3 linked regions of the Homo sapiens genome follow. The protein of the gene in region 1 purifies or fractionates together with the protein of each later gene. This does not show direct contact. Each region holds a gene or a part of one and is shown on either strand. Other genes may lie near its edges.

The links.
Region 2: the proteins of SLC44A1 (region 1) and CYB5B purify together in Homo sapiens (affinity purification with mass spectrometry; 2 studies listed by BioGRID and IntAct, with this or other methods). This does not show direct contact.
Region 3: the proteins of SLC44A1 (region 1) and CD9 purify together in Homo sapiens (co-immunoprecipitation; 2 studies listed by IntAct). This does not show direct contact.

The regions. Positions count from the first base shown.
Region 1 is NC_000009.12:105,359,550-105,366,732, forward strand, and holds part of SLC44A1 (choline transporter-like protein 1), read left to right. Parts: intron 1-1,641; coding exon 1,642-1,781; intron 1,782-3,271; coding exon 3,272-3,458; intron 3,459-5,005; coding exon 5,006-5,171; intron 5,172-5,933; coding exon 5,934-6,090; intron 6,091-6,796; coding exon 6,797-6,880; intron 6,881-7,183.
Region 2 is NC_000016.10:69,462,619-69,466,764, reverse strand, and holds the end of CYB5B (cytochrome b5 type B), read right to left. Parts: 3' UTR 501-4,146; downstream 1-500. UniProt on the Homo sapiens protein: Cytochrome b5 is a membrane-bound hemoprotein functioning as an electron carrier for several membrane-bound oxygenases.
Region 3 is NC_000012.12:6,203,301-6,210,483, reverse strand, and holds part of CD9 (CD9 antigen), read right to left. Parts: intron 1-7,183. UniProt on the Homo sapiens protein: Integral membrane protein associated with integrins, which regulates different processes, such as sperm-egg fusion, platelet activation and aggregation, and cell adhesion.

The sequences.
Region 1 (7,183 bases):
ACAGTTCCTAATACAAATTTAAATTTTAATAATAAATACTGTCTACCATGGCTATTGTGAACAGCTTCCTCCTTGACATCATTATTTCAATTTCATTCTATTTTTTTAACTTCAGCTTTTCTCCTATAATTCATTTCTGTATGTAGGAAACATATTTTCTTCCATTTTCTGAATATATTAAACATTTTTCCAGACAATTTTCTTGTGCCTGCAAGACTTCAAAATGGAAACATTCCCTTGCTCTAAAATGTTTTTCACCAATTTCTGGTAGTTTTGATTTGTTTCCTCCTCTTCAACAGATGGAAAATTTGTACTTGGTATTTGCCAACAAATAGGTAATGGAATTTGCCTTTGATCTCATTAACTCTTGAGTGCAGATGTTGATGTACATCGACTTTGCTTCAGTTTTTTATATCCCAGACATTTATCATATCAGCCACACACACACATGTCTCTACTCTGAATCATCCATTTTTTCACTGTGACCTACAAGGCCTTACAGTGTGGTCTGGTCCGCAGCTACCTCTCTGCCCACATCTCTACCACTTTCCGCATTGCTCATTGCAGTAGCCACAATGGTCTTCTTTCTCTCATACTAGGCATGGTTCTACCTCAGTCTCTTTGAACTTTGCCTGGGACACTCTTTCCTTAGATAGTGTCATAGATTGCTCTCTGTCTTTGATTCCATTGCTCAGATATCATCTTACTAATACCAGTGAGGCCTTGCTTACCCATCTTATATAAAATTGCAAAGCTTTCCCTACCCAGACACTCTATATCCTTCTTACCAGGAGATCATTTTTTCTTTAGACTTAATATACTGTATTTTTCCTTGTTTTCTTATTTTTTTGTTTCCCTATTATTATATAAGTTCCATGAACAGCAAGAGTAAGAACTTGGCTTTGTTTACTGTTCTATCTCCAGCTAGAACAATAGGTGCTGTAGCATTCAAAATGCTGAATGGGTTGAAAGTAGGTATATAAGTCAGCTCTCATATGTGGAGGTAGGTTTGTCTCCCTCTTCAGTCTGGTTCTTTGAATCTCTCAACCGGTGTTGGAGATTTAAAAATGCTTATCCCTAGCACCCACCACTATCAGAGATTTCCTCTTTGTTCCTCCCTTTGGTGGGAACTGTTCTTTTGATTTGCATTTATTCATTGTACAAATACTTAATCAACTGCATTACTGTGTCAGTGCAAGTCACAGAGGTATCTGTGATGAGTACAACAGAGAAGATCCTTGCCCTCTTTAAGCTTCATTGATGTTTTCTGTGATGCTTATTTCCTTCCTCCAGCCTCCTCAGCTTAAATGCTGAGGCTCTTTCTTTGTGGTCAATTCCTGTCAGGGGTGTATGTTTCTACTGGCTCGCTCTTAGCTTCATAGTCAATAATAAATACATTTGAAGGAAGCTTATTTGATACACTGAAGGATTTATAAATGCTTAATGTGGAGGATGATAATAGAGCAATGGACACTTTCTTTATGCTGGCAAAAAGTTATAGCTATGTACTTCCCAGCCAAATGGATTGTCACTGCATTAGTCCCATGATGATCTGTAGGAAGGGTCAAGAAAATTGAGAATTTATGTTACACATTTTCTTATCCTAATTATTGCATTAACAGTTGGGTCTTTTGTCTCCAGGAGGCACAGGTGTACTATGGTGGCTGTATGCAAAGCAAAGAAGGTCTCCCAAAGAAACTGTTACTCCTGAGCAGCTTCAGATAGCTGAAGACAATCTTCGGGCCCTCCTCATTTATGCCATTTCAGCTACAGTGTTCACAGTGAGTTTAGGCTTTGGCGTGTCTTTCGGTTTTGTGTTTTTGTTTGCAGGAGATCATTAATGGAGCAGAAACTCAAATCTAGCTTTTGCATTCCTAACCCTGATCTCCAGTAGATAATATCTCTGTGCCATAGTGTATGAAACACTAAAAAGTCTCTTGAAGGCTTCCCTCATGGATGAGTGCTATTTGATGAAACATTTTTTCTACCCTGTCTGCTTTTTGAGAGAGGATTTTCACCTAGAATATTTACATTACCATTTGCTTACAAGAACATATTTCTTATTGTCATAAGATAATTACTTTTTAAAAATGGTTCCCTTTACTGTAGAAAAGTATGTTAAAAAATATATCATTCCATTTACTTGTTTGCTAATTATCTTCCCATTTGTCTTTCAAACTTTTCATTTAACTTTATGGCGTTATTTCAAAAATATAGGTGTGGTCAGGTACAGTGGCTTATGCCTATAATGCAAGCACTTTGGGAGACTGAAGTGGGAGGATCACTTGAGCCCACGAGTTCTAGACCAACCTGGGCAAGATAGTGAGACCCTGTCTTCACAAAAAATTAAAATCAGCTGAGCATGCTGGTGTGCACCTGTGGTCCCAGCTACTCGGGAGGCAGAGGTGGGAGGGTCACCTGAGCCATGATTGTGTCACTGCATTACAGCCTAGGCAACTGAGTGAGACCTTGTCTCCAAAATATATATGTGTGTTTGTGTGTGCGTGTGTGTGCGCGCGCGCGCGTGTGTGTGTGTGTGTGTGAGATTTGCTGCTTAGGTATTAAGCAATAAAATTACCAATTAACATGTGGTTAAATAATTTATATGTATACCTTTGGTTCATCATCGTCTTCTCTCTGAAAAAAGAAAAAAAATCAGTCTACTTCTAAGAGCAATCCCAAGCTTTTTATTGAGCATCAGAAACAAAAAATAAAGCCATCATAAAACCATTGGTGCCAAAAGATATTTGTTAGTTATTGTTATACAGATATTACAACAAAATATGAATGAAATCTCATTTTAGGTACAATTTGCTGTGCCAGCTGCTGAAGATGGGATGTGGGGGTGGGAGGAGGCAAAGGGTGAATCTGACACAGATCCCACTTTTAAGGAGCTGTTGGTCTAATAAGGAAGATACAAATAAAAACCTCGTTTTTGTGGTGTATCTGTTTAAATAAATAAAGAGTCTCATCCTGACTGACAGTATGTTTTGGTTCATAATGAGTGGCAAAGGGAAAAGGAAAAAAATTCTAGAATGTATTAATAAGTTGAGAAATCCTTTTATGTTTTGCTTTAAAGGTCACTTGGTAACCATAATATAAAATTGACAATAAATATTGCAAGAGAGATACTTACTGATAAAGTATTATTGAAATTCAAAGAATGCTACCTCCAGGTTTGGGGCTGAAGGGTTATGTTAAAAATTTCTACTATTTTCGGTTTCTGTTTTCACTACTTATAATAATAACTGAAACCATTCTCTCCATACAGGTGATCTTATTCCTGATAATGTTGGTTATGCGCAAACGTGTTGCTCTTACCATCGCCTTGTTCCACGTAGCTGGCAAGGTCTTCATTCACTTGCCACTGCTAGTCTTCCAACCCTTCTGGACTTTCTTTGCTCTTGTCTTGTTTTGGGTGTACTGGATCATGACACTTCTTTTTCTTGGCACTACCGGTAAGAAGATAAGCTTCTTTCTCTTAGTGACAAACGTGATTTGCATTCCAGTATTTTAGAACATCAGAGAGAGGTAATTCTTCAGACATTTGTTGATGAAGGTCCAATAGCCATCAGAACTTGTAGTGGTTATGGCTCCTCAACAACCTACTTCATATTCGTCTTTTTTTTTTGAGACAGAGTCTTGCTCTGTCACCCAGGCTGGAGTGAAGTGGTGCTCTCTTGGCTCACTGCAACCTCCGCCTCCCGGGTTCAAGTGATTCTTCTGCCTCAGCCTCCTGAGTAGCTGGGACTACAGGCACATGCCACCATGCCTGGCTAATTTTTGTATTTTTAGTAGAGACAGGGTTTCACCATATTGGCCAGGCTGGTCTCGAACTCCTGACCTCATGATCAGGTCAGGACGCCTGCCTTGGCCTCCCAAAGTGTTGGGATTATAGGCGTGAGCCACCGCACCTGGCCTTTTATTTTTTTTGAGACAGAGTGTCTCTCTGTCACACAAACTGGAGTGCAGTGGTGTGATCTCAGCTCACTGCAACCTCAGCCTCCCAGGTTTAAGCGATTCTCCTGCCTCAGCCTCCCGAGCAGCTGGCACTACAGGTATGCACCACCATGCCTGGCTAATTTTTGTATCTTTAGTAGAGACAGGGTTTCTCCATGTTGCCCAGGCTGCTCTCCAACTCCTGGCCTCATGTGATCCATCCACCTCGGCCTCCCAAAGTGCTGGGATTACAGGCGTGAGCCAGCGTGCCCAGCCCATATTCATGATTTTTTAGAACATCCTAGCAATGTAAGTCTAGATCAGGGAAGGCCTGAAATTGCACTCTAATTTTGAAATGATCATGAATTTGAAGTAAGTTCCAATACTGACTCAGACATTTAGATTCATTCTAAGATGAACCAGTGAATGCAATGTCACTCAGGAGTTACCTCAAATCCCAGGTATAGCCAAGGATCTACTTACTTCCTTGGGATTTTCTGGTTTCGAAATGATCTGACCCTAGCTAGAGCTCCAACTGATGATATAGTTCATAGTTAGACACTCAGACTTTCTTACAGCCGTACTGAGTATCAAAGGTTAAGCTTAAATGGAACTAATTGTAAAGAGTATCATAAGGATAGTAAACTTTTATGTAACTATGTAACTTATCTGTCCATTCAGCACACACACTTAGCAACTGAATATAATAATAATTTCTGTACTTTGCTAAGAAATCTGTAATGATTGGATAAATAATAGGCCTTGAAAAAAACTGAAGTGTTTGAAAATTCATGCTTAAATAATTGATAATATAAGAAGAGTTTTATTAAATATAACAACTTTTAAAAGCTTTATATGATGCCTTTGAGGACATCAAAATGCATAATAGTACAATTCTTAATTTCACAACTTTTCAAGTGATAGTTATTTTTGTCCCTTTATGAAATACCACACAGATCAGAAGGTTTGTGGCTTGGGGTAGGGACCTATTGCCTTCTACTTAACTGCCGTATTTCTGGATTTGTACTTTATGTGCTTCTTCTTTCCTTCCTTGATATTTTCCTAGGCAGTCCTGTTCAGAATGAGCAAGGCTTTGTGGAGTTCAAAATTTCTGGGCCTCTGCAGTACATGTGGTGGTACCATGTGGTGGGCCTGATTTGGATCAGTGAATTTATTCTAGCATGTCAGCAGATGACAGTGGCAGGAGCTGTGGTAACATACTATTTTACTAGGTAAGAATATGTTGTTATTAGAAAACTCGAGTTCATCTAAGGGATGGTGTCCGCAGGCTGGAGGGGAAGGGAATCAGACTGGGGCTGGCAGGAGTTTCATTTCTTTAACAAAAGAATTAGAAATGAATATGACAGAGTGTTATATATAGTTGATAATTCTGGGAGGTGGTCAAATGAGAGATTGTTGTTTTATTCTTTATACTTTTCTGCAGTTGTCTCATAAAATTTATTGCGATGTCACAAATTGTATTTAGCAGAAGAATAAATCTTATAGTGGTGCCATATGTACTTTTGCTTTATATAAAAGTCCATCAAAGGACAACAAGTCTTTTTAGTTTGTTTAGACCGGAACAAGTGTGAGTTCCCTTTGCTAACTTTAGAGCCAAATATGAAAGCTTTAGGTCTCATAATTTTCTATTATAATTAGATGCCAAGTCTAAATTTAACATCTTTTTAAATTCTGTTTTCTGATGACCCCATAAGTATTCACTAATAAAAGCTTTCAGAGCACAGTTTTATTTAACTTGAAGTATTAGAGCATCAGAACCCCATGAAACTACCATAGAGCAATGACATTAATTTTATATAGCATGTCTGTAGCATTTGTAATAGTTATATATCACTTGGCCATTTTGTCATAAAGCTAAAATAAGAATGATGAGCTGATTTTTTTTTTCACTGCGTTGGACTCTAAACCATACCTGTGTTTCCATCCTGATCTAGGCTTTGTTTTAATTGTCTTTTTGGTCATTTTTTAAATAGGGATAAAAGGAATTTGCCATTTACACCTATTTTGGCATCAGTAAATCGCCTTATTCGTTACCACCTAGGTACGGTGGCAAAAGGATCTTTCATTATCACATTAGTCAAAATTCCGCGAATGATCCTTATGTATATTCACAGTCAGCTCAAAGGAAAGGTAAGGGGAAAATGCATTTCTGTACTTTCTGTGGGCACATTCCAGACCTCAGTTCTGCATGTAGTAAAGCACCCAATAATGTTAAATACAAAGTTGTGTTTTCTTCAAAGTCTTTACAAGGCAAAATCCAGCCCTTCTCCCTTGTCTCCCACTCATGCACTCCATATGCTCTGGCAAAATTCATCCAGTCACTAGTAACTAAAAGTATCCTGTGCTGCTCTTCCTCTCTGTTGACTCACATACCTTCCTCCTTAGAACTTCTTCCCTTCCTTGACTGTGGGAATAACATGCACTTCAACTAGTTTAGCTCAAATTCTACTCCTTTGTAGAAACCTTTCCTGATTCCTCCCATCTCCCAAACAATGCTGTCTCTTTGTTCTCCACTCTCATAACACTTAGTATCTATACTATATTCTGATTCTAACCTTTTTTGTGTTTGGTATTTTTTTTCTCCTACTAGATTGTAAGTTCCTTGCAGGTGTTATAAACTTCACTGTATATGCAGTAGAGACTAAATAAATATTTAATTGAACTTATTAAAAATAATTCAGTCATTATGTTTTAAGGAGAAAGTGGACAAGTATGGAGGCTTTGAAGCATAAATTGTGATTTTTAAATTTTTATTTATTTTTCTAACGTTTGAAGTCTTCTATGTGACAGTTTGATTCTTTGGTTTTTTTATTATTTCCATTTTTCCCCCATCCAGGAAAATGCTTGTGCACGATGTGTGCTGAAATCTTGCATTTGTTGCCTTTGGTGTCTTGAAAAGTGCCTAAATTATTTAAATCAGGTAAAATATTTTAAAAATAAATCTAATATTTACTTTCAAAGATAGGTTCATTGTTTCTTCTCCCAAGATAAACTTAATTGAAAGATGTTATGTTTTTCTTGTGGTATTGTACATTGTGCCTTGATAAAGTATGTCTATTTCAATCATATTCTTATTTTTTAAATTAATGTATATGCTTACCAAGGCTCATTATTATTTTAATTTTTTCCAACTTTTAGGTTTAGGGAGTACATGTACAGATTTGTTACATATGTTATTATTTTTATTTTAATAAATAGATAAAACATCACTCTGGTTCGTCTT
Region 2 (4,146 bases), on another chromosome or scaffold:
TATGTTTCAAAGGTAATTATAAAAACGGTTTATTTCCCTTGTTTTATTAACACAGTCACTAAACTTCAATCTCAGTGTTTAATTTTCCCCAACAGTTTAGCTATTTCCAAGAAAAACAATCATTTGAAGACTGGCATTGCAGATAACAAAACAGTATTACCTGGTACTGGCTTCTCTGTCAGTAGGTATTTTCAGTGGAAACAGAACCTCAAACCTGGCTACCCCGTTCCCACTTCACAGCCATTAAAACACAGCCTTGCTTTTTGCATTTCACGATTATCAAATGAACGATTCACTTCACGAAAAGAACAGTGAGGAGAATCCTGGAGAACCACGGAACTCCCCACCACGTTATGCTAAACACACCATTAGCACAGACACGGGAGACTGTCATGCTTCTGAAATCCTTTTCTTCCAGAACACCTGAGGATTACAAAACCAACACTTCTACTTAAAAAACACCTTTTTAAATTAAAAATAATAAGTGTAGTCGGGGCAAGAAAAGGAAAACAGTGTCTTTATTGTGTGTAGTTCTAACAAACGTTCACTGTGTGCGCATTCCAGCAGAAAGAGACAAAGATCTTTGTTCAAAATATTCTGAAAAAGGTAAACTAACTGCATTATTGAATACACAAAAGGAATGTTACCGTTACTTGTTCATAGTCAAAGGTGAAGTTAAAAAAAAAGGGAAGTTAAATAACTGAAGTAATGGTTTGCCCAAATAGCAAACGTAGGATACAAGCGTGGGCAAAGAGCAGCTACTGAAGCTCATGAGGAGGATGCTGGATATAGGGTAGGTAACTTGACAAATGCCTCTGCTTCTTTGGAACCTTCTTCCTAGATCACCCCCACAAATTCCAAACCTGGCTCTTTCAGAGCACAACAGCCAAATGTAACTAAACTCCTCATTACTTCTGTGATATTTGGCAACAGAATAAGATAGTTTAAAAAAAAATCAATTTCTTGTTGAGACAAGACATGTCTGAATCCATTTCTCTTGGGGTAGGAGGAGGTAATGAACATTAACGTTCTGCATCTCAATCTCCTAAAATGGAATTTAACCAGATAGATATCGCTTGAGATTTTAAAGCAGGAGATACCATAAGTAATGATACTCCAGGCCTGTAAAGCATTTTTCATTGTCCCACATTGCAGCTAAATGAGTATAAACTCGACAGTGTTCTGATTTCACAACATATGCATTTATGACAACTGCTAAAACAACTTTACAGGCTCAAACGATAGGTTCCAAGGGATTTTTGTTTTTGCTTAAGCAGTCTTGAAGAGATCTAAACACAAGATAAACTTTGACCCCACCACTCTGTTATCTTTACAAATGCAGAAGTCATTTGGAAACCAAAACCAATTGCTGAGTAGGGGCTGAGGAATTTTGGTGTCATTTCAAACTAGACTCTACTGAGGCAGGTTTAAACCCTGGCTCTCAGGCCAGGGGCAGTGGTACCAACACCCTCTATTTCGGTAGCATGAAACTTCTCTCACCTCCTCCTTCGTGTCCAGCAGCCATGATGTGTACAGTACAGTTTGCAGCAGCAGCAGCAGCAGCAGCTAGTCTTCCTCAGGAATAAACAACCGAACACCCCAGAGACCAGCTCCAGGTGGCACTGTCAGCCAATGGGGACTGGCTCCACTTGCTCTCCAGAGGGTTTTTCACCAGCTACCCATGTCAAGACTGTTTTGTGAATTCAAGTCTACTTCCTAAAAAAAAGGTCCTTTTGGATGGATTTGGCTAGTGTGCTATACTACTTTATTGTATAGAAAAACCTCTGCAAACTCTCACACAAGATTTAGCTTTCACCTGGCTGTTTTTGTAGGCAACAAAATAACAGTAAATGGACCCCAAAGTGATTTTCCAGATACAAAGTGACATCACATCGGCAGTAGTTCAGAAGAAGCCCTGGGTACTGGGGGATTTCATGGGTGGAAGAGACAAAGTCTAATTATCTTTTCCTCTGGCTCTCAGCAAAAAACAAGTGCAGATGTAAACAGGAAAAGAAAACCAATGTGAAGTAGAAAAACATACCTTTTGCATTGGCATTTACCTTAAAAATAACAAAAACACCAATTTTACTTAAGATGGTAGTTCTTTAACATTTCTTATAAGCCAGATGTTTTTCATTCAATTTCGGACATTGCCAACACACTTTTACAACTGATTCAAGTTATCTTCAGGCTTGGCTTTAGTTTGAATGTTCCCTTTCAAGCTCCTCAATACTCCTCTGTTCTTTACTTTTACCCCAATGTACTCCAATAATCACGCAATTTATTTATTACAGGCAATCATATACCAATCCTTCCTTGCCTTTAAATAGAGAAGCATCAAGTCATACCACTTTTGTTAAATAATAACCAAAGTTTTTTTCAATATTGTCTTAAAAGTAGCATCTTATAATGCATACAAACATTTTTCTAAAGATAAAAGCTTTACTAAACCCATATCCCTGATAATAAAAGTCAGCCAGAAATCTCCTAAAATTACTCCCAAATATATCCAAGTGTGCAAGTACAAGGTTAATATTATTTTGATGAATTCTGTATTCATTCAACTGCTAAATCACAGGATACAAGACCTGGGTTGAACTTTTTCTTAAATAGTTTACATGGGCAGTCCCTGGTTTGCTGGGCAGTTTCCTGTCTCATCAAATCCCTGGCAAGCTGGGAGGGAGGGAGGAGATGCTGAGCAGCCTCTATGGTCCTTCTTGAACCAAGCTGCTCCCTGCTGGATATGACAATGGCTCAGAAGCAGACTAGCAATTCTCAAAGGACAGGGAGAAAAATCACCACAGTTGCTGGCAGAAAACAGCCAGTGTACTATTTATTTCCTCAAGTGCTTCCATGGGGGAAAAAATAAAAGTCTAATATGCCAGAGAAATCATCATTGAACCAATAAGACACAGTAACATAATTCTAGTAACCTACTTCTCAATGAACACACATCTGAGAAAAAAACCGCCAGTATTTTATTCTCATGGAAAAACAGAACAAACCCACAAGTTGGAGTCACGGAGATAAAATACAGATGAAATGGAAAACGGTCTGTTGTCATGAACTCTCACTTTCAAATACCATTTTATATGGAAGTTACTTTACTGCGGGGCAAACAGAAGGCCATGCTGGAGTCTCTTACTTTTGGAAAATGGAGAATCAAAAATTTGCTAATCAACAAACAAAAAAGGAGGGAAACTCCTTGGTAAAGCTCTACAAACATAATTATACATTTATATTTTACCAATAAAAGATAGCTAGGGTAGAAAAAACAGATGGTTAGAAACTGGTGCCAAACCAAAGTGAAAGCTTTGGTGCCTTCTCTAAACTCCTATCCTGTTTCTTTAGAAAACACCAGTTTTCTAAAGAAAGATTACTCTGAATTCACCAGGGTTCTATCACCCCAATTCATCCCTACCTTTCCACCCCCAAGACACGAAAGGGCCATGTAGTTTTTTGTCCGGCACCACTTGGGAAGGGGCTGGGCTCAGGGGCTGGGAAGAGCTACCTGCTGCCCTAGCTTGAAAGGGAGGAGGTGGCCACACCATTCTTTGTATTTTTATCACGCACATAAAAGAACAAAAATCATTTGGCAGTTTTAAGTTTAATAGGTGCAAACCTTTACTTCAGGAATTAAACCCCTTATGATAAATAAAAGAATTAAATCAGATTTTTTTTTAATACAGATAGGGGTCTCGCTATGTTGCCCAGGCTGGTCTTGAACTCTTGGCCTCAAGCGATCTTCCCACCTTGGCCTCCCAAAGTGCCAGGATTACAGGCCTGAGCCACCACACCTAGCCCTAAATCAGAATTTTTTAAAAAAAATTTACTTAAAAGAAAAATGGAAAAATAAAACTTTCAACACTAGACTGCCGCCCTGTTAAGAATGTCTAATATGCAATCAAAGTATTGGAAAGCAGGCATTTTTACCAAAGAGCAATGTCACTATAACTTATGAACAGAAAGTTGTGAAATATAAGGGTACTCATGGAAACCAGTGAAGAGAGGAAACACCGGCAATTGTTCAACACGGAACAGTGAGCAGGTACTTTGGGAGTAAGGCTCTGAGAGATGGAAGACGCTGGTCTCAGATCTGAGGTGATGTCTGGCCAATCGTCTTGGCTCCAAGGGGGAAGAATGCAA
Region 3 (7,183 bases), on another chromosome or scaffold:
AGTGGGTGCTCGAAGAGAGTCTAAAAAAAACAGCCGGTGCTTCCTCTCCCTGGCCTTTGTCCTGAGAGCTTCAGCCACACCCTTGGTTCCACTGGTCATATAGTCAGGGTGGACAGAGGCGGCGCTCTGGGAAGGGACTCTCCAGGGCAACTCGCACATCCTCCTTTCCCCTTGGCTGCACTGTTGCAGCTGCCCATTGGCATTGTGTCCATAGACGGGACCGCAGCCCGTTCAGTGGCCATGGTCCTTCCATCCCCCGTGAAAACAGCCCCAGAGTGGGACCCGGAGCCTCTGCCCTTCCCCAGAACCACCCTGCCAGCAAAGGGCAGAACAAGATGACATCAGCACAGGCCTCTCTGTGTTATAGCCCTGGGCACGAGCTCTCAAGACACACCCCAGGGTCCTAGAGGAGAGTGCCAGCCTCCCATGACAAAGAAGGCCAAAGTGTCCCTCCTCATCCTAGAAGATAATCTAATTTCTATTTGAAATGAGCAGTCCCAGCTGGGCGCGGTGACTCACGCCTGTAATCCCAGCACTTTGGAAGGCCGAGGTGGGCGTATCACCTGAGGTCAGCAGTTCGAGACCAGCCTGGTCAACGTGGCAAAACCCCATCTCTACTAAAAACACAAAAATTAGCCGGGCATGGTGGTACATGCCTGTAATCCCAGCTACTCAAGAGGCTGAGGCATGAGAATCGCTTGAACCCAGGAGGCAGAGGTTGCAGTGAGCCGAGATTGTGCCACTACACTCCAGCCTGGGCAACAGAATGAGACTCCATCTCAGAAAAAAAAAAAAAAAAAAAAAGAAATTTGCAGTCTGGGTCTCTAAAGGGTTGTGTCTTAGGGAGCCAGGGCTACAATTTGACTAGAGAGGAGGAAAGGAGAGTATGAAGAGATTTTCTCAGGCTTGTAGACAGGAAGCTTTAAAACATCTGAGCTTAGCAATAATAAATTTAAATCCACAGTCCCACATTGTGAGAAAGAAGATGTTTACATTGCACCATGGAGAGCAGGAGGAATATGTCTTAGTGGGAAGGGCCTCCCGTCTCTAGGAACGGGGCCGCTGAGGGAGGTATGGATGACTCCCCACCCAGAAAACATCCAGTGGAGTTGGGCATAAATCTGGGGTGTGCATGCACACTACACACTGCAACTGCCCACCTACAAGGGAAGACATGATGTGGATTCAAACACCAGATTTCTATTGACTTGAAAAGCTACGACGAGCCCGGTGCGGTGGCTCACGCCTATAATCCCAGCACTTTGGGAGGCAGAGGTGGGTGGATCACCTGAGGTGAGACCAGCCTGGCCAACATGATGAAATCCCATCTCTACTAAAAATACAAAAATTAGCTGGGCGTGGTGGCATGTGCCTGTAGTCGCAGCTACTCAGGAGGCTGAGGCGGGAGAATCACTTGAACCTGGGAGGCAGAGGTTGCAGTATGCCAAGATTGCGCCACTGCACTCCAGCCTGGGTGACAGAGCGAGACTCTGTCTCAAAACAAACAACAAAAAAAGCAATGATGAGTTCACAAATAGTATGATTTTGCTGATCATTTCATTTAGAGTTTTAATAAATCAGTACACTGTATTATCATACTACATTCAATCAACTTAGGTTTAAAAGACATTAAACTACACACCTGTAATCCCAGCACTTTGGGAGGCTGAGGCGGGTGGATCACCTGAGGTCAGGAGTTCAAGACCGGCCTGATCAACATGGAGAAACCCCGTCTCTACTAAAAATTAGCCGGGCATGGTGGCACACCCCTGTAATCCCAACTACTCAGGAGGCTGAGGCAGGAGAATGGCTTGAACTCAGGAGGCGGAGGTTGCGGTGAGCTGCGATCGCACCATTACACTCCAGCCTGGGCAACAAGAGTGAAACTCCACCTCAAAAAAAAAAGAACAAAAACAAACAAACAAACAAAAAAAACTAAAATCCTTGAATAGGTTTTGAATTAATAAATTCATAATTAATAAAACTGCCTGATTAACTTTATGGTATTTTTAGCCTCAGTCGAGGTTCTTCTCCTATGACCCATGTATTGTGTTGTTTCTGAACTTGGAGACTAACACACAGCTTAGACTGGGAGTGTCAGCAAGGGACTGGCACCTGAAGCTGTGAAGCTCAGTTCCGAGGAGAGGGCTTGGCAGGAGCCACCAGCTGCTTAGCCTGCTCAGAGGTGTCACTGGAAACTTGGATGTGCATTGGGTAAGCTGTGAAGGGTTACTTTTCTTTTCTTTTTTTTTTTTTTTTGAGATGGAGTTTCACTCTTGTCGCCCAGGCTGGAGTGCAATGGCACGATTTCAGCTCACTGCAACCGCCGCCTCCCAGGTTCAAGCAATTCTCCTGCCTCAGCCTCCCAAGTAGCTGGGATTACAGGCACCTGCCACCATGACTGGCTAATTTTGCATTTTTAGTAGAGAGGGGGTTTTTCCATGTTGGCCAGGCTGGTCTCAAACTCCCAACCTCAGGTGATCCGCCTGTCTCGGCCTCCCAAAATGCTGGGATTATAGGCGTGAGCCACCGCGCCTGGCCTGAAGGGTTACTTTTCTAGCAGAGCTCATAAGAGCCACTATTTCTTCCCTCAGGCACAATGCCTGGCTTAAGGATTGAAGAGGAAGGGCTCTTAAGACCCGGGTTTCTGATTTTTCTCCAAGTCAGTAGTCCCCAAACTTCTCTCTACCGGGACCTCCTCTGGAATCACATTAATCCGGGCCCCTCTCCAAGTCAGGCTGCTTTGCCTTTCCCAGTTACTCAACCAGGCTGCTTCTCAACTCCTTGGGAGTGCAGCTCCCCAAATGATCCCTCCTGAGACATTCCTCCTTTCTGCAAGTCCTCAGAGGACGAGACTTTCCGTCTGCATTTGGAGGGAAGGAGAAGAGAGACAGACCTCCTTTCTTCCTGAACAAAGATGAAGCACCAAGCTCTGGGAAAAGCTAAGCCAAGAGGCCCAACCTGGCTGGAAGATCATACAGTTGCATTTTTCGTGTGTACTAGAAATACAGAGCACTCATTAAATTAACCGAGTGAAAACCACTCCTTAGGCAATGATTAAGCTGAGAGTCAGAGGGATGGGTGGGAGGCCAGCTGTCCCATCTGAGCTGCACTTGATCACTAGGGAATTTATCATTTCTAATGCCTTTCACAAAGTCCCCTGTGATGCCCCCATTGCAGCCCCCGGGGAACGGTGAGGCAACCTGCTTCTTATGGCAGAAATATGGGACTCAGGACAGAGCAGGGGTTGTCTGGAAACTGAGGGAGAAAAACCAATATGGGGCATTTATAGCGTGAGCTCAGGCTGGGCGTGGTGGCTCACATTTATGATCCCAGTGCTTTGGGAGTCCGAGGCTGAAGGACTGCTTGAGCCCAGGAGTTCAAGACCAGCTTGGGCGACATAGAGAGACCCTCTCTGTACAAAAAAATTAGCCGGGTATAGTGGTGTGTGCTGTAGTCCCAGCTACTTGAGAGGCTGAGGCCAGGATTGTGTAAAGCCCAGGAGTTTGAGGCTGCAGTGAACTATGATGGTGCCACTATACTGCAGCCTGGGCAATGGAGAAAAAGGCAAAAAAAAAAAAAATGTCTATGGGCCTCCAGAAACAGACATAACATTTTTCTGGAGGCAGGTCGTACTGATTCCAAGGAATTCCCTAAAAAGGAATTTCCCTAAAAACGTTAAGATGTATTAGTCTAGGATGACAGGATATAGCACTTAAAACTATCCACAACTAAGTATTTTTGGAGAGGCGGGGGGAGGAAATTACCAGATAGATACAATTATTATAAAATTATCACAAAAAAATTATCTCATCTGGGGACAGGATGTTGCTTTCTACGGCTGCATGCCATCACTTGATGGAAAATGAGAATGTCCCTGGACCAGCATGACTTTTTCCATGGAATAAAACAGGCAAGTAATCTGTAGTCAGGCCTTAAAACATAAATTTAAGAAATGTAGGCCAGGCGCGGTGGCTCATTCCTGTAATCCTAGCATTTTGGGAGGCCAAGGTTGGCAGATCGCTTGAGCCTAGGAGTTTGAGACCAGCCTGGGCAACATAGTGAGATCCTGTCTCTACAAAAAAATTAAAAGGTTAGCTGGGTGTAGTGGCACATGCCTGTAGTCCCAGTTACTCAGGAGGCTGAGGTGTGAGGATCGCCTGAGCTGGGAGGTTGAGTTTGCAGTGAGCCATGAGCCATGATTGTTAACACTGCACTCCAGCCTGGGTGACAGAGTGAGCACCGTCTCCAAAAAAAAAAAGAAAGAAAGAAATGTATAAAGACTAGCCCCCGCCCCCTATTCCCCTGCATTTTTTTTTTTTTTTGTCTTCTGAATTTCCTTCCCAGTTGCAAAGGATTTTTCCTGCTCTCTGAGGCCATGGGTCTGACAGGCTCTCACCCAGATTTTCAGACTCTTAACAAGGAAGTCGTTGCTCTTCTGTGTGTATGGGGTAAAGCCTGTTTCTGCAAGGCTTTGGTTGAAAAGACCTGTGGTGGATCCAAATAAAGTCCCGCTGACCCCAACCTGGGGGAGGGAGGAACACAAAACATAAACATGCAGCTTCCTCAAACTTCTCCACTCTCCTTTCCCCAGCTCCACACAGGTCTGTCTAGAACATGCTGCCAGTAGGACCACAGAAGCTGTGGTTGGGGTGACCTCAGGCCCCCTACCCTCACAGCCAGGCTCACCCAGGTGAGAACCACACCCAGGCAAGAACCATCAAGGTTTGTGTTCTTTAGAAGAAAAGGCGCCTTTGTCAATCCAAGGTATTATTAAGTTCCAAACCCAACCCTGCAACCAAGTCCAAAAGCTATGCCTCCTTATAAAATTGAACAGAACAGGAAAACAAAAACAAACAAACAAACAAAAGCAGACAAAACAAACACAGGATCTATGTGTGTAAGGGGGAGATTCTCATCCAACACTGCTCCTGGAGGAAGGGGTGAGAAGGCTGATTTGTGAGCCCAGCAGCCGCAGAGGGCTCATCTAGAGTCAGTACTGGCAGGGCCCCAGAGAGGGCTGCATATCAAAGCACTCCCAAATTCGGGCTGGAGCCAGCAGCTGCTTCCTCTGAGCACAATAGAGCAGGGTCTGGAATCGTGCTGTGGGCCACGTTGAAAAGAAGGGGGTAGAGAACGTGAGTGTGAGCGTGTGCAGAGGAATCCTCACCACCATCAAAAGATTGGGTCTTTGTTGTTCACACCCACTGTGGGTGTAGGGGAGAGACCATCAAAATCCTGGGCAAAGGAAGCAGATACCTGGCCTCAGCTCACCTCTCCCCAAGCCTGCCAGCTTCAGTGCACGTGTAGCCAGCTTCACCCCAGCGCAGGCTGTCTGGGCACTGGAGGTGGGAGCCATTTTATGCAACAGTCCCAGCAACTTGCTTCTGGGGGAAAAGGCAGACCATGGGGAGGGGCTTTTGCCACTGCCACCCAACTTGTCCATGCCCTGCCCAGATCCGGAATCCTGATCCTTAGGGTTTCTCTGACAGGCAATTTTATTTTCAGAAGCGGGGCCTTCCCGCAGCCAAATGAGCAGTAGCAACCCATGAAATGGAGTCAGGGTTTTGATGCACAGGACAAAGTTGGCACTGATACAGGAAGGGGCAGGGAGGCCAGTGTGTGGATTGGGAGGGTCCTCCTGGCCACATCTGCGGTTTAGACTTCCACACTTCTTAGAGAACTGCTCTCACCCTCCCCAGGGCCTCATTCTACTCTCCACTAGTGAATAACAATAGCTACTGTTGGAAGATATGTCTGGTGCAATCTACTATGCTAAGTGCACTACACATACTCCCCATTTAACTCTCACAGCACCATGTGGGGTGGTCACCAGCCCCATCTGGTGATGAGACATGGAACCCAGGACTGGTGCTTTGATCACTAGGCCAAGTACTAAGGTATACGGGCAATGAACACCCCTGAGAGAGACCCCACCCAGGGTGAGGAGAGGGAACTGAGAAGCAACAGCAAAGAAAAGCACCAGCTGGGCTCTTGCTCCAGAGGTAAAGGCCAAGAAAAGCTAAGTTCTGAGGACTCAAGCCTTGGTATCCATCTCCCATTTCCAATTCAGGGCTTGTATTTTGTTTATTATATTATTATTTATAGATTTAGGGGACACGAATGTAGTTTTGTTACACATGGTGAAGTCTGGGCTTTTAATGTGACCATCACCAACATAGTATACATCGTACCCAATATTGGTTCCTATTTTGGGTTGTGTAGGAGAGTTCTATTGTTGTATGTGGTATGTGTAGGGGTGTTGGGTTCATAGACTGAGCTTGAAAGGACCTTTTGAGACCATTTGTTCCAAGCTATTGTTTTACAGATGAGGAAACTGAGGCTTAGAGCACAGAAGTGACCAACCCAAGGTTTCAAAGTGAGTTGAGGACAGAGCTGGGCTCACATCCAGGTCTCTGAATTCCCAGTGTAGGTCTCTGTGTTTCGCACCAGCCTCCCCTAGGTCTAGGGGATATGGTTTCTTGGGAAAGAGACCTCCCAGCCCCACACTGCTGTTTCCATCAGTGAGCGAGGCATGAGAGACAGTAAGCAAAGGGGCTGAGGGAGGTGGGGAGGGGATTGGGCTCTGTCAGTATAGCCAAACCTTTCCCTCTTTTGCCCTAAGGAGTTCCTCCCCTTCTCTGACCAGAAAGAGGGCAGACATGCATGTGTCAGACTGGACTGGCCCTAACCCTGGTTCCCCATTTCAGCTGGAGAAATACTTGTGTGTCTACCACATGGACATCAGCAAGATGTTTTCCCTCTCAACTGTTTTTTGGGGGGTGGGCAGGCGGGCAGGGAGGTCTGAAGGAAATGTAGAAACAATCAAAATAGAGCTAGGAGGGCCGGTTCTGGAGGTGGTGGAAGAACAGACTGATTTGCTGGTTTGGCTGTGGCCATCAGGGAGTGACCCACAGGGATGAGATCAGGCCAGGGAAGAGGCACAGCCCCCCAATAACCATCCTACTCCACTGAGGTTGGCCTCTCTCTGGATGCCTGTTGGACACCCCCTCTCAGCAGCCTCTGTGCAAAGTGCTGCTGGGCACTGGCCTCACAATTCCTGCTTTTCAAGGCCCACATCAGGTTCCGAATGCCAAGTTTATAAATGTCTGGTCTCAAGAGAGAAACGGACGTGGTGACAACATAATCACCCAAGCAGTTCCCTTAGGTTACACCTTTCCTT